2 separate regions of the Homo sapiens genome follow, and region 1 is linked to region 2. Evidence: fine-mapped expression QTL. Tissue or cell type: whole blood. Region 2 holds a variant in brackets; the other region holds the start of a gene. All regions are shown on one strand. Distances are from middle to middle.

What was found. PIP is the estimated chance that this variant, and not a neighbour inherited with it, causes the effect.
Region 1: SCAMP2 starts here. The variant in region 2 is fine-mapped to the expression of SCAMP2 in whole blood (INTERVAL, PIP above 0.99). The same link has a PIP of 0.9 or more in sun-exposed skin and unexposed skin.

What each region holds. Positions count from the first base shown.
Region 1 is chr15:74,870,872-74,876,017 of GRCh38, forward strand. It overlaps SCAMP2 (secretory carrier membrane protein 2), which reads right to left and starts at 2,494. Exons shown (of 9, transcript NM_005697.5): 1 at 2,328-2,494. The coding sequence starts at 2,384. RefSeq lists an enhancer at 1-677.
Region 2 is chr15:74,927,625-74,932,770 of GRCh38, forward strand. It overlaps COX5A (cytochrome c oxidase subunit 5A), which reads right to left. Exons shown (of 5, transcript NM_004255.4): 2 at 1,492-1,608. Among named protein-coding and RNA genes, the nearest start is that of COX5A, 7.9 kb to the right of the region's middle. The variant C/T (reference allele first, on the strand shown) is at 2,260.

The DNA.
Region 1 (5,146 bases), 57 kb before region 2:
TGACAGGAAGGACTCCTTCAAGGACTTCTCTGACACCTGCAGGAAACTTAAAAGCTGCCAATGACCAAAATAAAGGACAAGCAGGGTGAGTTAATGTGCCTGGTGACATCCTGACAGAGCAGAATATCAGGGCTCATAATTCACCAGTCAGCACAAACAAGCTTCCCTAGAACGGGTTTTGAGCAGACGTGAAACAAGAGGCATAGGAGCTCTGGAGGTAACAGTTCAGCCCCTCATGGTGGAAAAAGATCATCCCTGTGCTCTCAGCTGAAAGGCAGAAAGGTGTGGGCTTTAAGTAGGAAGACTGTCCTGTGGCTCATGCCTGTAATCATAGCACTTTGAGAGGCTGGGGCCAGAGGATTGCTTGAGACCAGGATTTCGAGACCAGCTTGGGCATCACAGCGAGACCCCTTCTCTACAAAAATTTTTTTTAAAAGGAGTCAGGCCCAGTGGCACATTCTTGTAGTCCCAGCTACTCAGGAGACTGAGGTGGGATTCAAATAATCATTTGAATCCTGGAGGTCAAGGCTGCCATGACCTCCACTGTGCTACAGCCTGGGCGACAGAGTGAGACCCTGCCTTAAAAAAGGAAGAAAGAGGGCTGGGCGCAGTGGTTCATGCCTGTAATCCCAGCACTTTGGGAGGCCGAGGCAGGTGGATCACCTGAGGTCGGGAGTTCGAGACCAGCCTGACCAACGTGGAGAAACCCCGTCTCTACTAAAAATACAAAATTAGCCGGTCGTGGTGGTGCATGCCTGTAATCCTAGCTACTCAGGAGGCTGAGGAAGGAGAATTGCTTGAACCCAGGAGGCTGAGGTTGCAGTGAGCCGAGATCGCGCCACTGCACTCCAGCCTGGGCAACAAGAGCAAAACTCTGTCTCAAAAAAAAGAGGCCAGGTGTGGTGGCTCACCCCTGTAATCCCAGCACTTTGGGAGGCTAAGGTGGGTGGATCACTTCAGGCCAGGAGTTTGAGACCAGTCTGGCCAATAAGGTGAAACCCCGTCTCTACTAAAAATACAAAAATTAGCCGGGTGTGGTGGTGCACACCTGTAATCCCAGTTTCTCGGGAGGCTGAAGCACGAGAATCACTTGAACCCAGGAGGCTGAGGCTGCAGTGAGCCGAGATCGCGCTACTGCACTCCAGCCTGGGCGACAGAGCAAGAATTGTCTCAAAAAACAAAACAAAACAAAACAAAAAAAAAGGAAAAGAAAGAAAGCAGGAAGATTGTTTCTTCCTTGATTGCTGTTCAAAAGGTCAGGCCAGGCGTGGTGGCTCACACCTGTAATCCCAGCACTTTGGAAGGCCGAGGCGGATGGATCACCTGAGGTCAGGAGTTTGAGACCAGCCTGGCCAACACGGTGAAACCCCGTCTCTACTAAAAGTATGAAAATTAGCTGGGTGTGGTGGCATACGCCTGTAGTCCCAGCTACTCAGGAGGCTGAAGCAGGAGAATTGCTTGAACTCGGGAGGCAGAGGTTGCAGTGAGCGGAAATCGTGCCAATGCACTCCAGCCTGGGCGACAAAGCGAGACTCCGTCTCAAAAAAAAAAAAAAAAGTCAGGCCAGCTCACACGTCAGTGCATCTCAACTATGTTGCCACCACACACAGTTCCATCAGACAAACGTTCCCTGTGGGTCCAGAATTTTTCACAGTCCCCCGCACCTCTCCTCTCTCCCTAACCCGGGCTCTCCTATCTGGTCAAAACCCACTCCAAACTAGACCCATGGCCAAAATGTGGAATTCTTATCAAGGCCATTTTTCAACTTGGGCTACCTTCCCGCCCTCTCCCATCTTTCTTTCCCTGACAAATCTCAGGGGCTCTCCTGTACTTTATACACTAGTTTGGCTGGTGGTGGAGCGGTGGCAGGTGTCCTGGGCTTTTCCCACATTTTTCCCCTCCACCAGAGGCTTCACCACCTCCTCATATGTTGCTGTCACCCCCTCTTCTAAAGTGACTCAAGACAGGTGTCTATCCAAGAATGAGGGAATGCGATAGCCACATTTCGCTTCTCCCTGACGCTAGGAGACTTCCGGAAGGGTCCGACCGTACCTGCTCCAGTCCCCTTCCCTAGCACAGCCCAGCCTCCGGGTGCTAGAAGACCCCACTGTCTCCAACACTTCAGCGCCCCGCCTCCTCTGCAGTTCCACCTGCTGCTAGTCGCGCCCCTCACGCGTTACGATAGGCCAGACCTCAAAGCCCGCTCTCCCATTGGGCAGATGACCCGTCCCTCCTACGCCACGTCTCCCGGCTCTAGCGAGAGGCCCGGGCGGCGGCCGTGGGCCCTAGGGAAATCTGAGAGCTGGATGGCGGGAGAGGGGCTCTACCTGGAAGGGGTTTACATCCACTGGGTCCGCGAAGGGGTTGGTGTCGAAAGCCGACATGGTGATCGGGGGCCAGCGGGCGAACTCCGCGAACGCTGCTGCCTCCGGGCACCCAGACCCAGCGGCGCTTCGTGTAGACCCTCCACTTCCGGGAGCGAGGCAGCGGTTCTGGCGCAGGCGCGATGCCCTCCCCCGAGGGCGTGGCCCTATGACGGCACCGGGGTCGCTCCGCCCCCCCCCCCCCCCCCCCCGCCCAGCCCACAATAGTGCGGTGGGTGGGCATTCGGCTTCCGTCCACATCTTCGCTCTGCTGGGGATTCAGGGGTCTTGGCTGCGCGGAGCGTCTACGGAGCCAGAGGCGTGGCCGGAGTCCTTCCCAACTGCCTATCAATCTGACACCTTCCAATTTTATGTTTCTAAAGCAAACTCTCAAAAGTGGGACAGGAAACAGCCCCTTCACTTCTCTGTAGACCAAGTTTGGGAAGAAGTCCAAACTGATCCCTGGGCAAAGGACAGGGGTGACAGGTGAGGCCAGAGGCCTTGGGAGAACTAGGAAAGCGCTTCTTCTGCAGAACGTGCTCGGGGAAAGAGAAGTGCCAGGACCATCCAGCAGTCCTCCACCCGAGCTGAGCCTGCTTCTTCTAGGGCTGCTCGCCCTCTGATGTCGTTTCATCGTTTTAGGGACGAGGGTTCCTGGGCCCATCAGCTTTGGGACCTGAGTTGGGACTTGAACCTGGACATCAAACATTTATGAAGTGACTCACGGAATTCAGCAACACAGCCTCAATCATGGGGGAGGTGGCTGCTTCACTCTCCACAGCTCCGCTTTCCCCCGCCCCCGCCCCCCACAGGGTCTCACTGTCGCCCAGGCTGGAGTGCAGTGGTGCAATCATGGCTCACTGCAGCCTCGAGCTCCTGGGCTCAAGCAATCCTCCCACCTCAGCCTCCTGAGTAGCTGGGACTACAGCTGGTCACCACCATACCCAGCTAATTTATGGATTTTTTGTAGAGATGGGGATCTCACTATATTGCCCAGGCTCGTCTCAAACACCTGGGCTGAAGTGATCCTCCCGCCTTGGCTTCCTAAAATGCTAGGATTATACTCATGAACCACTGTCTGGCCAAATCCACCTTATTTATTTGGATCTGTCTGGTATTATTCATCTCTGCTGTCACCGAATCCCAGCCACTGTCATTTTTACCCTGAACTAATACAGTGCTGTTAATTGGTCTATTGTTCTTCATGTTGTAATCAAAGATATGTTTAAAGGGGGCAAAATTATCACAGAACTTTGTTAAAATTTTTCAATTAATTTCCATAAAGGGCTGGGTGCGTGGCTTATGCCTGTAATCCCAGTACTTTGGGAGGCAGAGGTAGGAGGATCACTTGAAGCCAGGAGTTCGAGACCAGCCTAGGCAACATACCAGGACCCTGGCTCTACAAAAAAAAAAAAAAAAAAAAAAAAATATATATATATATATATATATATATATATATACATATACATATCTCACACACACACGTAATTAGCTAGGCATGGTGGCCTGTGCCTGTACTCCCAGCTACTTGGGAGGCTGAGGCAGGAGGACTGTTTGAGCTCAGGAGGTCAAAGCTGCAGTGAGCCATCTTTGCACCACTACACTCCAGCTGAGTGACAGAGTGAGACCCTGTCTCAGTTAAAAAAAAAAAAAAAAAAATCAGGCCAGGCAAGGTGGCTCATGCCTGTAGTCGCAGCACTTTGGGAAGCCAAGGCAGGCAGATCACCTGAGGTCAAGAGTTCGAGACCAGCCTGGCCAATATGGTGAAACCTCATCTCTACTAAAAATACAAAATTAGCTGGGTGTGGTGGTGCACACCTGTAATCCCAGCTACTTGGGAGGCTGAGGCAGGAGAATCGTTTGAACCTGGGAGGCGGAGGTTGCAGTGAGCTAAGATTGCAACATTGCACTCCAGCCTGGGCAAAAAGAGTGAAACTCTGTCTCAAAAAAAAAAAAAAAAAATCATAAAGGCCCAAATTCTTAGTTTGTCTTCAAGGTCCTAAAGGATCTGCCCCTACGTTTCTCCCCTTCTGACCCCTTCTAGCCCCCAACCCCCACCCACTGTTCCAGCCATGCAAGTTCTTTTCAGTTGCTCAAACCTTCCTTGTGCCCTCCTGTCTCAGGGCCTTTACACATGTGTTCCTTCTACCTGGTATGCACTTAACCCATGCCCCACTATCATCCTCTGGTTAACCTCTCCTTACCCTTTAAATGCAAGTTCAGATGCCTTTCTTCAGGAGTAGCTTCCCTTCACTCTCTTGGTTACATCATCACCTCATACCCAACATAAGCTCTCCTATTGCCCTGTACTTTTCCTTCACAATACCCATTGCAGATTGTAATTAATACTAGTATAGGTGGTTCTTTATGCCTGTATCCTCCGCTAGACTGAAAGCTCCATGAGGGTAGGGCTGAGGTCTGTTTTGCTCACTGTTGTGTTTCTGTCACTAACATAGTATAAAGCACATGATACACATTTATTAATTTATTTTTTGTGGGTTTGGGGTTTTTTTTTTTTCCAGACAAAGTCTCACTCTGTCACCCAGGGTGGAGTACAGTGGCATGATCTCAGCTCAGTGCAATCTCCGCCTTCCAGGTCCAAGAGATTCTGCTGCTTTAGCCTCCCAAGTAGCTGGGATTACAGGCACTCACCACCACACCCAGTTAATTTTTTTTTTTTTTTTTTTGTAATTTTAATAGAGACTGGGTTTCACCATCTTGGCCAGGCTGGTCTTGAACTCCTGATTTCAAATGATCTGCTCGCCTCGGCCTCCCAAAGTGCT
Region 2 (5,146 bases):
GGCCGGGCGTGGTGGCACATGCCTGTAATTCCAGCTACTCTCGAGGCTGAGGCAGGAGAATCACTTGAACCCAGGTGGTGGAGGTTGCAGTGAGCTGAGATCGCGCCATTGCACTCTAGCCTGGGCAATAAGAGAGAAACTCCATCTCAAACAAAACAAAACAAACAAACAAAAAAACCAAAATAAAAGAGATTCAACTGGAAAACAGCCTAAAAACAGCCAGAGAAATGCGTAGAGTTAATGAAGCCTAAATGAGGACATTAAGGAGATATTATAGAGAAACATTAGTACACAGACTCATAAACATTCAACCAGAAAATGATTGGGCATGATTACTTTCAGATCTGCACAAAATGACACATAATAAAATTTAAGATTCTCTTAATGGGAATACATAATTGTTCTTTTTATTACTTCTACTCCAGATTGTTCAGTAAGAATTCTATTGGTTGTAGCAAAAGGGAATCATTACATTTCTGCAGAGAAGTTTAAAGCACTTAGGTTTCTTGCTTTTATTACTTTAAAATATTTAAACAAAGGATACCAGTGAATACGATAGTCATTGAGATTGAATTTTTGGTATGAGATAAATTACCCTACACCTAATTCTATTTTTTCATGTTAAGTGTGCATCTGCAAATTTAGGAAAGACAAGTTCTAACTTACTTAGATACTTATTCATGGCAAAACAATGCAAAAATAACAAAAAACCCAAACCATCACCCAAAGGGGAAGGGAACCAAATGACTGCTTTGTGTAAATTCTTTTTTTTTTTTCTGAGACAGAGTCTCACTCTGTTGCCCAGGCTGGAGTGCAGTGGCGCGATCTCGGCTCACTGCAAGCTCTGCCTCCCGGGTTCACGCCATTCTCCTGCCTCAGCCTCCCGAGTAGCTGTGACTACAGGCGCCCGCCACCACGTCCGGCTAATTTTTTTGTATTTTTAGTAGAGACGGGGTTTCACCATGTTAGCCAGAATGGTCTTGATCTCCTGACCTCGTGATCCGCCCACCCTGGCCTCCTAAAGTGCTGGGATTACAGGCGTGAGCCACCGCGCCCGTGCTATGTAAATTGTTTGAAATGTACAAAACTGTTACCTTTTGCTCATCTAGCCTTATTGCTATAGCAGTGGTTTTCAATTAAGGGTGACTTCATCCCTCAGGAGACACTGGGTAATGCCTAGAAACATTTTTGGTTGTCATGATACGAATGTGTGCATACTGGCTCCTAGCAGGTAGAGGCCAAAGGTGATGCTAAACACCCTACAGTGTAAAGGACAGTCCCCTACAACAAAGAATTATCTGGCCCAAAATGTCAATAGTGCCTGCCTTAAAATCCTGCTTTATAGGTAGCCATAAACTTTCCTAACTGCAAGTTGCATGAAGTAACCAGTTTAAACAACGCATGTTTTCGAAACAGTTGCTCTCAATAAAGGAGCAGAAGCAGTTCATATTTACACACCAAAATAGACAAATATGTTTATGTTCCAATTACCTTTACGCAATTCCCAGGCATCTATATCTGGCTTGTTGAAGTATGTTACCCAGCGAGCATCAAACTCCTCATCTGTCTCCTGTGACCCATGGGAATAGCAGCGAACTGACTGGATAGCTATAATGTGAAAGAACCATAACTTCAATGTACACAAATAGTACTTGATATATTTTGTTCAATGCATTAAATTTTGAGTTGACTATATATGTTGTGGCAGCAAAAATATTGAACAGGTCAAATGAAATACATCGTATACATTGATACAGAAAGATATATTTTAAATTAAGCAAATAAAATCAAGTAGAACAAAAAGTATTACATAGGCATGTTTATACTTTTCTCCCTAATGTATAATACTCGCTTGAAATTATTAACAGTGGTTCCCTCTGATTTTAAATTAACAGTGATTATCATGGGACGTAAAAACTACTTTATATACTTCCATATTGTTTGAATTTTTACACATAACCAGAGTATTAATTCCTAAGTAAAAATGTCCCAGGTGGGCATAGTGGGGCACACACCTGTAGTGCCAGCTACTCAGAGGCTGAGGCAGGAAGATTACCCGAGCCCAGGAGTTCAAGGTCGTAGGGTGCTAACAATATGACAGAACCTGATAAGATAGCCATTGCATTCCAGCCTGGGCAACACAGCGACACCCCACTTCTAAAAACTAAGAATAGGCCAGGCGCAGTGGCTCACGCCTGTAATCCCAGCACTTTGGGAGGCCGAGGCAGGCGGATCACGAGGTCAGGAGATCAAGACCAT[C/T]CTGGCTAACACGGTGAAACCCCGTCTCTACTAAAAATACAAAAAATTAGCCAGGTGTGGTGGCGGGCGGCTGTAGTCCCAGCTACTCGGGAGGCTGAGGCAGGAGAATGGCGTGAACCTGGACGGCGGAGGTTGCAGTGAGCTGAGATCACACCACTGCACTCCAGCCTGGGCGACAGAGCAAGACTCCAACTCAAAAAACAAACAAACAAACAAAAACAAAAACAAAAACAAAAACTAAAAAACTAAGACTAGGCCGGGCGCAGTGGCTCACGCCTGTAATCCCAGCACTTTGGGAGGCTGAGGCGGGTGGATCAAGAGGTCAAGAGATCAAGGCCATCCTGGCCAACATGGTGAAACCCCATCTCTACTAAAAGTATAAAAATTAGCTGGGTGTGGTGGCGCGTGCCTGTAGTCCCAGCAACTCGGGAGGATGAAGCAGGGGAATTGCTTGAACCCAGGAGGCGGAGGTTGCAGTGAGCCAAGATTGTGCCACTGCACTCCAGCCTGGCGACAGAGCGAGACTCCGCCTCAAAAAAAAAAAAAAAGACAATAAACAACAACAACAAAAAAAACCAAAAAAGCAACAAAAAAAAAAAACTAAGAGCAATACTAATGTCCATTCAAGTTCTTTTTTTTGAGACAGGCTCTCGCTCTGTTGTTGCCTAGGCTGGAGTGTAGTGGCGCAATCACAGCTCACTGCAGCCTCAAATTCTTTGGGCTCAAGCATTCCTTCCTCCCTTGGCTCCCAAAGTGCTGGGATTACAGGTGTGAGCCACCAGCCCTGGCACCATTCAAGTTCTTAAATAAACTTATATACTTCATTCACACATTAAAAAAAAAAAAATCTCGGGCCGGGCTTGGTGGCTCACGCCTGTAATCCCAGCACTTTGGGAGGCCGAGATGGGCAGATCACCAGGTCAGGATATCGAAACCATCCTGGCTAACACGGTGAAACCCCGTCTCTACTAAAAATACAAAAAATTAGCCAGGTGTGGTGGCGGGCGCCTGTGGTCCCACCTAGTTGGGAGGCTGAGGCAGGAGAATGGCGTGAACCCAGGAGGCGGAGCTTGCAGTGAGCAGAGATCACGCCACTGCACTCCAGCCTGGGCAACAGAGCGAGACTCTGTCTCAAAAAAAAAAAAAAAAAAAAAAAAAAAAAATTCTCATGTTATTATATTCCAAAATAAATTACACATCCTGACAAATTACACATACAAATTGCTTTATCAAACTACAGCCCCTTCCCAAAATATTCTGATAAATCCCCTAAGGGAACGTACACTCTAATCTACACCTAATGCAAAATAATACTGTTTTACTAGGAATATTTTGGGCTGGGCGCAGTGGCTCACACCTGTAATGCCAGCACTTTGGGAGGCTGAGACTGGTGGATCACCTGAGTTCAGGAGTTTGTGACCAGCCTGATCAACATTGTGAAACTCCGTCTCTACTAAAAATACAAAAATTAGCTGGGCGTGATGACGGGCGCCTGTAATCTCAGCTACGCGAGAGACTGAGGCAGGAGAATCACTCGAACCCAGGAGGCGGAGGTTGAGGTGAGGTGAGATGATGCCATTGTACTCCAGCCTGGGCGACACAGCAAGACTCTGTCTCAAAGAAAAAAAGAAATGATGTTTACATAGAGTACTGTATGAAAAGCATTTCCATTTTTTTTTTTTTTTTTTGAGATCGAGTCTCACTCTGTCACCCAGGCTGAAATGCAGTGGAACAATCTCAGCTCACTGCAACCTCTGCCTCCTGGATTCAAGTGATTCTCCTGCCTCAGCCTTCTGAGTAGCTGAGACTACAGGCGAGCGCCACTAAGCTTGGCTAAGTTTTGTATTTTGAGTAGAGACGGGATTTCACCACATTGCCCAGGCTGGTCTCGAACTCCTGACCTCCAGTGATCTGCCCACCTCAGCCTCCCAAAGTGCTGGGATTACAGACGCGAGCCACTGCACCCAGCCCCATTTTTTCTTTCTTCTTGTCAAATGGACACTGAATTGAGTTTGGAAATCTGAATTCCTTCTGAACAGCCTCTGGAACAGGTAGGGGGATAGGCGGAGGCAGAAAATTTTATCTTTGGGTATTGAATGCAGCACAACCTAGCACTCAGATACCTCTAGGCTCTTCGCTCTCTCTGTTTGACCCTGGAAAATTAACTTAAGTTTATTTTCCTTATCTGTAAAATGGGGACGCTACCCCCCTTAGCAGATTATGAAGATTAAATGTGAAAACAGGTAGGTTAACACTATGCACTGGTAAGTATTAAACAAATGGTAGCTATAAACTAACCCTTATCTAAAAACGTCTTAGTTGTCTATTTATAGAAATCATAACTTAAAGAAATGAAACCTATCTCAAATCACATTTCCTACTACCTGTATTAGATAAGTGTGGTGTAACTTCCAGTTGTTTAAGGCTTAACATATTTTTATTTATTTACTTTTAGAGATGGGGGTCTTGATATGTTGCCCAGGGTGGTCTTAAACTCCTAGCCTCAAGCAATCCTACCACTCCCAAAATACTAGAATTACAGGTGTGAGCCACCATGCCCAGCCTTAACATACATATATATATATTTTTAAAAACTTCACCCAGAAACCTCTCAACATTGTTGTTCTAAGAACACTGAAATTTAAACATTAGTAATATCCTATATATCTTTAATGCAGTAACTGGCAGGAGGAAGAGTAGCAAAAAAACGAAGCAGAAAAGATCTTCCCAGAGACCTAAATTACCTACATAATCCAAGCCCAGAATGAAGTGGAACATGTACATAAATGGACTAGAAGTGAACACGTTTTAATTTCTTTTTTTTTTTTTTTGAGACAGAGTCTCACCCTGTCGCCCAGGCTGGAGTGCAATGGCACGATTTCGGCTC